Linked DNA regions of Homo sapiens: region 2 is linked to region 1. The links come from fine-mapping of genetic effects on gene expression. Tissue or cell type: pancreas. Region 1 holds a variant in brackets; the other region holds the start of a gene. All regions are shown on one strand. Distances are between the middles of the regions.

Evidence for each region. PIP is the estimated chance that this variant, and not a neighbour inherited with it, causes the effect.
Region 2: it holds the start of VPS33B, and the variant in region 1 is fine-mapped to the expression of VPS33B in pancreas (GTEx, PIP above 0.99).

What each region holds. Positions count from the first base shown.
Region 1 is chr15:90,993,407-90,997,793 of GRCh38, reverse strand. It overlaps PRC1 (protein regulator of cytokinesis 1), which reads left to right and starts at 3,259. Exons shown (of 15, transcript NM_003981.4): 1 at 3,259-3,387. The coding sequence starts at 3,377. LOC124903556 (a long non-coding RNA gene) reads right to left here and starts at 3,015. Exons shown (of 2, transcript XR_007064759.1): 1 at 2,859-3,015; 2 at 169-451. RefSeq lists enhancers at 2,219-3,085, 3,086-3,953 and a silencer at 3,503-3,722. The variant CCACCATGA/A (reference allele first, on the strand shown) is at 2,483.
Region 2 is chr15:91,020,301-91,024,466 of GRCh38, reverse strand. VPS33B (VPS33B late endosome and lysosome associated) reads left to right here and starts at 1,873. Exons shown (of 23, transcript NM_018668.5): 1 at 1,873-2,313. The coding sequence starts at 2,218. It overlaps VPS33B-DT (VPS33B divergent transcript), which reads right to left and starts at 1,845. Exons shown (of 4, transcript NR_110104.1): 1 at 1,727-1,845; 2 at 496-1,154. RefSeq lists enhancers at 1,909-2,318, 2,173-2,789.

The DNA.
Region 1 (4,387 bases):
ATCCCATTTGCTGACATCTCCCCTCTCTCTGTCCTTTGTTGTCATCCACTTCCAGATCTCAAGCCTTCATCTCACTCCTTAGCGCCACACAAGTATTTCCTACCTGGTCATTCCACAGGCACTTCAAACTCAGCATGTACAAAATAAACTCATGAGTGGAAGCTCCTGTCCCTACTTGAATCCTTTAATCTGCTCTTCTTCCTGTATTCCCAAACTTTGTTCAAATGAGCAAAAAATTGTATTCTTGACCTCAGATTTTTTCTTTCTATGCCCCACCTTCAGCTGGTTCCCTTGTGCTATTGGTTCTTATTTCTAAATGTCTCTAGTTCATCTTCTCCTCACCATCCCTACGACAGAGGTCTTTATTGTCTCTTGCCTGGGTTTTTGCAAGAGTGTGCCTCCCAGCTGCTCATTCTTCCATCTGTTCCCCATTCCACAGTGCTGCCACTTACTAAAAGGAAGAAAGAAAATCAAAACCTGAGTTACTGGATCATCAAAAGTATTCTTCCTATAGAATAATGATCATTCTGGGCCCCGCACGGTGGCTCACACCTGTAATCCTAGCACTTTGGGAGGCCGAGGCAGGCAAATCACTTGAGGTCAGGAGTTTGAGACCAGCTTGGCCAGCATGGTGAAACTCTGTCTCTACTAAAATATAAAAATTAGCCAGCTGTGGAGGCGCGCACCTGTAGTCCCAGCTACTCATGAGGCTGAGGTGGGAGAATCGCTTGAACCCAGGAGGCAGAGGCTGCAGTGAACCGAGATCATGCCACTGGACTCCAGCCTGGGCAACAGAGCAAGACTCTGTCTCAAAAAATAAATAAATAAATAAGAATAATGATAATTCTGTATAAGAATATATTCCAAGGAAAAGGCATTCCTCAAGCATCTAGCTAGAATTTTGAGTGTTATGTCAAGCTAGTGTGCAAGACCAAAGACACTGCCAACAGGGCTGTTAATTCACAGAAAGAATAGGTGGCATCAGAAAAAGATTAAACAGTGGCAAAACATTGCACTTCCATCCAGTAGAAATATATGACCCTGTAATAGGATTTTTTTTTTTTTTTTTTTTTTTTTTTGAGAAAGGGTCTTGCTTTGTCGTCTAGGCTGGAGTGCAGTGGCGTGACCATGCCTCACTGCAGCCTTGACCTCCTGGGCTCAAGTGATCCTCCCACCTCAGCCTCCCAAGTAGCTGGAACTACAGGCTCATACCACCACACCTGGCTAATTTTTGTATTTTTTATAGAGACAGGGTTTTGCCACAGTGCCCAGGCTAAGGTCATATATTATAAACGCGTATTACACAGTGTTTTACATGCTGCGTTTATGCTCTGAATGGATATCTTTGCATCAGTTCTATGACTTTGTTAGCCTCAGCACCTCAGTGTAAAGGACAAGAGAGAAAAAATTGCCTTTTCTTTGGATACTTCATAATGCTGGTGCTAAGAACAAGTATGAAGATCACAAATTTGTGAAGCTTTCTGAAAAGCTCTCCTGTTAATTTAATCAACAAAGAATGCAAGTAAATTTTAAAAGTAGTGCTACCATCTACTCTATTAGTGGTGTCAATGTTAATCACAGAGTGCAAGGAAATTGAAAAAGTGGTGCCTGTCGCCCACTGTGTTGGTGCTGTGAATGTTTGGCATGCTGCTGACAAGTTAAAAAGAACATGGAAGCCGGGCGCGTTGGCTCACGCCTGTAATCCCAACACTTTGGGAGGCCGAGGCAGGCGGATCACCTGAGGTCAGGAGTTCAAGACCAGCCTGGCCAACATGGCAAAACCCCGTCTCTATTAAAAATACAAAAAAAAAAAGTATCCAGGCATGGTGGTGCGTGCCTGTAGTCCCAGCTACTCGGGAAGCTGAGGCACAAGAATTGCTTGAACCCAGGTAGCGGAGGTTGCAGTGAGCTGAGATTGGGCCACTGCACTACAGCCTGGGTGACAGAGCGAGACTCCGTCTCAATTAAAAAAAGTAAAAAGAACATTGAAAGCACTAATGAAGTTTTTCTGAAAATAAGAAAAATATGGTTCTGAAGGTGAAGCAAACAAGCATCCTTTACCTTTAGGGAAAAGGCATATGAAGAGGATTCACTTAAGTTACAGTTGGCCAATAAACACGAAAAATGTGCAATTTCAATTATAATCAAGTGCCAAACAAGGAAATGCCAGTATTATTATTTTACCTACAAAATGAGCAAAGATGTTTAGAAGTACAATAGAATTCAGCCCTGCTGAGGGTAACAAAAGGAGGGTACTTTTCCGGTGAGGCTTTGTGCAGAAGGCAAATTAATAAAGGGAGCATTCAGTAATTACACCTCTAGGAATCAGCCGTACGAAAATGCAGGATGCATTTATAAATACATACATACACAAAGATTTATGTATGAAGATATTCAGCCCAGCCTTATCTTTTAAATTATCATCTAAATATCAATAGCAGAATGGGCGAGATATCTACACACCAGGATTCATGCCACCATG[CCACCATGA/A]ATCACTGGGAAAAAACGGTGATATATAAGCATTTAGGGATGTAACATGTTCATCGAGGAAAGGAGGCTACAAAAGTAATGTCTATTTTGAGTTTTAAATTTTTCATGTAACGATTTAGAAACTCATCTAATTTGATAACGTGACTTAGGCAAATCATTCAAATCTTTTTGCGTTTCCTCTGCAATGGCGATTGTGGAGGTTAAATGGGATAACTGGCGTTGAAACGTTCCAGGCCCATGAGCAGGACTCAATGTTCCTTCCCTTCCCCTTTAGTGTATGGCTTCTTACATCTGGGGAAGAGTCCCACCAAAGATCGATTCCAAGCTTCGCTTCTTGGATGAGCGAGGGAAACTAGGCGCTAACTTACCTATTCACCCCCGCGCCCGTTCCCGGCAGCCGGGACTCAGGGAAGCCAGGTAGCCGCGGTGCTCTCAACTCCCTCCCCGCCCGCGCACTTCGAATCCAAACTGCGCGGGGCGAGGCGGGGCGGCGCTCCGATGAGGTAGCTGGCTTGGGAGAGGAGTCCCTTGAGGCTGCCGCCAAGCCAGGGAAGCGGGAGGCGCAGGCCACGCCCGGCCACTCACAGACAGTGACGTCATCCCCCGCCGCCACTCCGGCGCTTCCCAGGCCCTGCTCGCGAGTCCCCACCCCGATTGCGCACCCGCGACTTCAGCCCGAGGGGCGGGGATTTTCTTGGAGCGACGGGACGCGACGCCAATCGCGACGAGGCTTCGCCCCGTGGCGCGGTTTGAAATTTTGCGGGGCTCAACGGCTCGCGGAGCGGCTACGCGGAGTGACATCGCCGGTGTTTGCGGGTGGTTGTTGCTCTCGGGGCCGTGTGGAGTAGGTCTGGACCTGGACTCACGGCTGCTTGGAGCGTCCGCCATGAGGAGAAGGTGCGGGTTGCGGGGAAATCGAGGGGACGCGGGAGGGAGCGACGCTCGTTTCGGCTGCGGGGCCTGTTCAGGGGTGCGGGACCCGTGCGGGGTCCCGGGCCTAGATCGTCACGGCAGTCGGCGCCGAGGGAGGCCGGGGGCGCTGAGGGGCAGGGTCTGGAGGCGGCGAGCCAGTGCGAGGGCCGCGGCGGTGAGACCTGACGCGCTGTCCGCCGGCGGCCGCAGGTGCCCGCAGGCTCAGACGCCCGGGTGGGAGCCGAGCGCCGGTGCCCGGACGCGGCAGGGTAGTCGAGGCCCGGGGCCCGGGGCGGCCTCCACCCAGGCGGTCAGCGCTGGCGCTCGGACCCCACCCTCCCCGCCCGCAGCGTCTCAGGTGCCGCTGCTTGGCGCAGATGACTCGTTGTAAACCTTCTGTGGTCGTGGCTTTTCTTTAAAGCTGTTAAGTTTATTTATCGTTGTTTTTCTTTGTTTTATTCTTTTTTTTTATTTTTGTGGAAACGCGGTCTATGTTGGCCAGGCTGGTCTCGAACTCCTGGCTTCAAGTAATCCTGCCACCTCGGCCTCCCAAAGTGTTGGGATTACAGGCGTGAGCCACCGTGCCCGGCCCGTTGTTTTTCTTTATATCTGGCCAGCGGTGTTAACGTTTTGTTTGAATTGGAAAGATAGCTTTGTTTCTTTGCAAGTTAAGAAACGGATTATGGAATTCTTTTCCGGTCGTTTTAATAACTTCCTAGGCGGTGTTGGGGAGGGACTGTCCGACTTGAAATCGGGACCAGACGGTGACACTGCCACTTACCAACCTTGTGACTTCCAAATATTAACTTTATTTTCTAAAAGTTGTGGATGCAGTTTTCTGATGATACAGCGTTAAATAATGTGTAGTTTTTGGTGGAACTGATTGTTCTAAGGCTTTGTAAGATTCTTCATTTCATGATCACTAATTCTGATCAGTCTTTTTAAAATGCTTGCCCTCAGAATAATGAGAATTGAGTGCCAACAT
Region 2 (4,166 bases), 27 kb before region 1:
GGCCCAATCTTTTTCCTGAATGTTCCTACATCTCCCCCTGGGTTATTTTAAAGCAAATCCCAAACATATTTTAGTTTTTTTTTTTATTTTTTAAGAGACAGATCGGGCCAGGCATGGCGGCTCATGCCTACAATCCCAGCATTTTGGGAGACTGAGGCGGGAAGATCACCTGAGGTCAGGAGTTCAAGACCAGCCTGACCAACATGGAGAAACTCTGTCTCTACTAAAAATACAAAATTAGCTGGGTGCGTGGCACATGCCTGTAATCCCAGCTACTCAGGAGGCTGCAGCAGGAGAAACGCTTGAACCTGGGAGGTGGAGGTTGCAGTGAGCTGAGATCGTGCCATTGCACTCCAGCCTGAGCAACAAGAGCGAAACTCCATCTCAAAAAAAAAAGAGACAGAACATATCACTGCACTCCAGCCTGGGTGATAGATAAAGCCAGACCTTGTCTCAAAAAAAAAAAAAGAAAAGAAAAAACAAACGGTGTCTCACTCTGTTGCCCAGGCTGGGGTGCTGTAGCATGATCGTAGCGCACTGCAGCCTCAAACTCCTGGGCTCAAGTGATCCTCCTGCCTCAGCCTCCCAAGTATCGAGATTAAAGGTGCCCACCACCATGCCTGGCTATTTTTTATGTGTTGTAGTTGACCAATCTTATCTCAAACTCCTGGCCTCAAGCAACCCCCCGACCCCGACCTGGACCTCCCAAAGTGGTGGGAATTAGAGACATGAACCATTACTCCTGGCCAAATTATTTCACCTGTAAAAACTTCAGTATGTATCTCAAAGAGATAAGGACTTGTTTTTAACAGAAATACAAGCCTGTATGACATAGAAATACAAAAAATAATAATAACATAGAAATACAATACCTGGCCCAACGTTGTGGCTCACGCCTGTAATCCCAGCACTTTGGGAGGCCAAGGCAGGCGGATCACTTGAGGTCAGGAGTTCGAGATCAGCCTGGCCAACATAATGAAACCCCGTCTCTACCAAAAATACAAAAATTAGCCGGGCATGGTGGCACTCGCCTGTAATCCCAGTCTACTCGGGAGACTGAGGCAGGAGAATCTCTTGAACCTGGGGCGGCAGGGGGGTTGTGGCGCGGAGCTTGCAGTGAGCCGAGCTCCTCCACTAGGCAAAAGGGCGAGACTCTGTCAGGAAAAAAAAGAGAAGAAAAGAAATACAATACCCGAAAAGTTTTAGTAATTCCTTAAATCAGTTATCTTTGAATTATTATCCAAAAAAGATCCACACATTGAAACATTTTGTTGATACATCTCTTAAATCTCTTTTATTCTGAAGTGTTTTCCCCTCCCACATTTCCCACTTTGCCATTTTTTTGAAGACGACAGATCATTTGTCCCATATAATTTCCTACATTTTGGATATGGTTGATTTCATACCTTTGGTGTCTTAACATATTCCTGCTAATCTCTATATAGCCTATAAACTGGTAGTTAGATCTTGAGGCTTGATTAGGTTCAATTTTTGGCAATAGGTGATGCTCTGTATTTCCTATGCATCTCACCAGGAAATGATATGATGGTATGATTGATCAGAGTTGAGGTATTGTTAGCTAGCCTGATGCATTCATTATGTCTTTTTTTTTTTTTTTTTTTTTTTTTTTGAGGCAAGGTCTAGCTTTGTTGCCCAGGCTGGGGTGCAGTAGCGCGATCGCAGTTCACTGCAACCTCCGCCTCCCTGACTCGAGCGATTCTCCCACCTCAGCCTCTGGAGTGCTGCGACCCCAGGCGCCGCCACCTAATTAATAGACGCGTTGCCTCCGTTTTTCAAATGTCCCTTTCAGGACGCCGTCCCCTTCCTGGTACGCGAAGCGCTGGGAGCGAAAGGGACTTCCGGGAGATCTAGGAAGTCGCTTCTTTTTCTGGTAGAAGGCGGGGTTCTCCTCGTACGCTGCGGAGTCTCTGCGGGGTGTAGACCGGAATCCTGCTGACGGGCAGAGTGGATCAGGGAGGGAGGGTCGAGACACGGTGGCTGCAGGTCTGAGACAAGGCTGCTCCGAGGTAGTAGCTCTCTTGCCTGGAGGTGGCCATTCATTCCTGGAGTGCTGCTGAGGAGCGAGGGCCCATCTGGGGTCTCTGGAAGTCGGTGCCCAGGCCTGAAGGATAGCCCCCCTTGCGCTTCCCTGGGCTGCGGCCGGCCTTCTCAGAACGAAGGGCGTCCTTCCACCCCGCGGCGCAGGTGACCGCTGCCATGGCTTTTCCCCATCGGCCGGACGCCCCTGAGCTGCCTGACTTCTCCATGCTGAAGAGGCTGGCTCGAGACCAGCTCATCTATCTGCTGGAGCAGGTCAGTGCTTGCCTGACGCCTTTATCGCATCTACAGTTTAGCACTCATTGGATGCACATTTCTTCCTTGCCGTGCCCCTTTGATCTTGTTCTTGGCCCCTGGTATTGTCCTTGGCGCTTCCCCAGCAGGTCCAGAATGAATCCAGGGAGTAGTAAGAGCTGTTTGGAACCTGGCCAGAGAGTTAATGGAAATCACCCCCCAACCCCGCATACAGGCAAGGGAGACACCATTAGTGCCAGGCATCCCTAGGGACGGAAAGATGGTTAAGACATCTTTGCCATTAGGGATCTTACCACTCCAGTAGGAGCTGTATGAAGCACAAATTATCACACACAGGTGGTAAATGAGTGATAGAGCTAGTGTACCCGAAGAGTTCACAGTAAGTGATCATTTCTAGTTGGGGTGATGATCTAGGAGCTTCAAGGAAGTGAGTGTGAGTAATAAGCATATTTTCTTTGGAGACTAAGCATGCTCCAGGCAGATAGATTGGTAGGAGCAAAGTTGGCAAACCAGGGAAAGACAAGGCATGTAAGGGAAGACACCCATCAGCAGTTACACAGTAGCCACTGAAAAAAATTTTTTTTCCATTTGTGGCATGAGACAATACTTGATGATTCTAATAGTGATGTGTGTGGTGGCGTAAATGGGCAACAAGAAGGCCAGTTAGGAGACCGTAGATCAGACAAGAAATAAAGGCCCACACAAAATTGGTAGCAGTGGGAATGAAGGAAAGTGATGGATTTTTAAGTTATGGTGAAAGAAAACTCAAAGACTTACTGATTGGTTATAAATGTTGAAGGAGAAGCAAAAATGAGTGAGATTTTTAACCTGGGTTATTAGGAAAATAATACTGCCACTGTGATTTTAATGGATTACTTGTGTAATCATTTAGTTATTCATTTTATGTCTGTATTCCTCATTAGACTGGAAGGTGGGCAGGGATCATGTTTGTTTTGTTCAACACTACCTAGTGAGTACCTAGCTTAGAGTCAAGCACACACCATGTGCTTAATAAATATTTGTTGTATTAACATTGAATAGAAATGAGAAAAATAATTAGAAAAAGGAACAGGTTTGATGGGGGAAGTTGATTTGTTTGGGTTTGGATGGGGGAAGTTAAGATGCCCGTAAGAAATATAGCTTGTAACATCCAGCAGATAGAAATGTAGAACTGCAGCTGCATTGTGAGGACTGGAAGGAAGATGGATCAAGATGAGAACTGCAGGGCATCTTAGACCAGATTTTATTTCTATTTTATTTTATTTATTTTTTTGAGACACAGTCTCACTCCGTTGCCCAGGCTGGAGTGCAGTGGCGCGATCTTGGCTAACTGCAACCTCCACCTCCCGGGTTCAGGCGATTCTTCTGCCTCAGCCTCCCCAGTAGTTGGGATTACAGGCGCACGCTAGCCCACCTGGCTAATGTTTGTATTTTTAGTAGAGATAGGGTTTCACCATGTTGGCCAGGCTGGTCTCAAACTCCTGACCTCAGGTAATCTGCCCGTCCCAGCCTCCCAAAGTGCTGGGATTATAGGCTTGAGCTACCACTCCCGGCTTCTTTCTCTTTAATACTTAGTGCTTGCACAGTGACATGCACATAAAAGACTTGCAACAATGTCTGAAGAATTTAAAAGAGGTGCTAGTTAAAGCCACTAGTTCAGGTGAGATCAAGTAGAGGAGACCAAGAAGAGAAACTTGAGCCCACTGGGTGATTCAGCATGGCCAAAGTGGATTTCCAGGCAATAACGTCCTCTCCTAACTAACTTCTGACTTAATTTTTGTTAATGTGCACTGCTATTCAGCTTGAAATATCAGAATCATCTTTGCCTCTCCTTCACCCTGATACTTAACTGA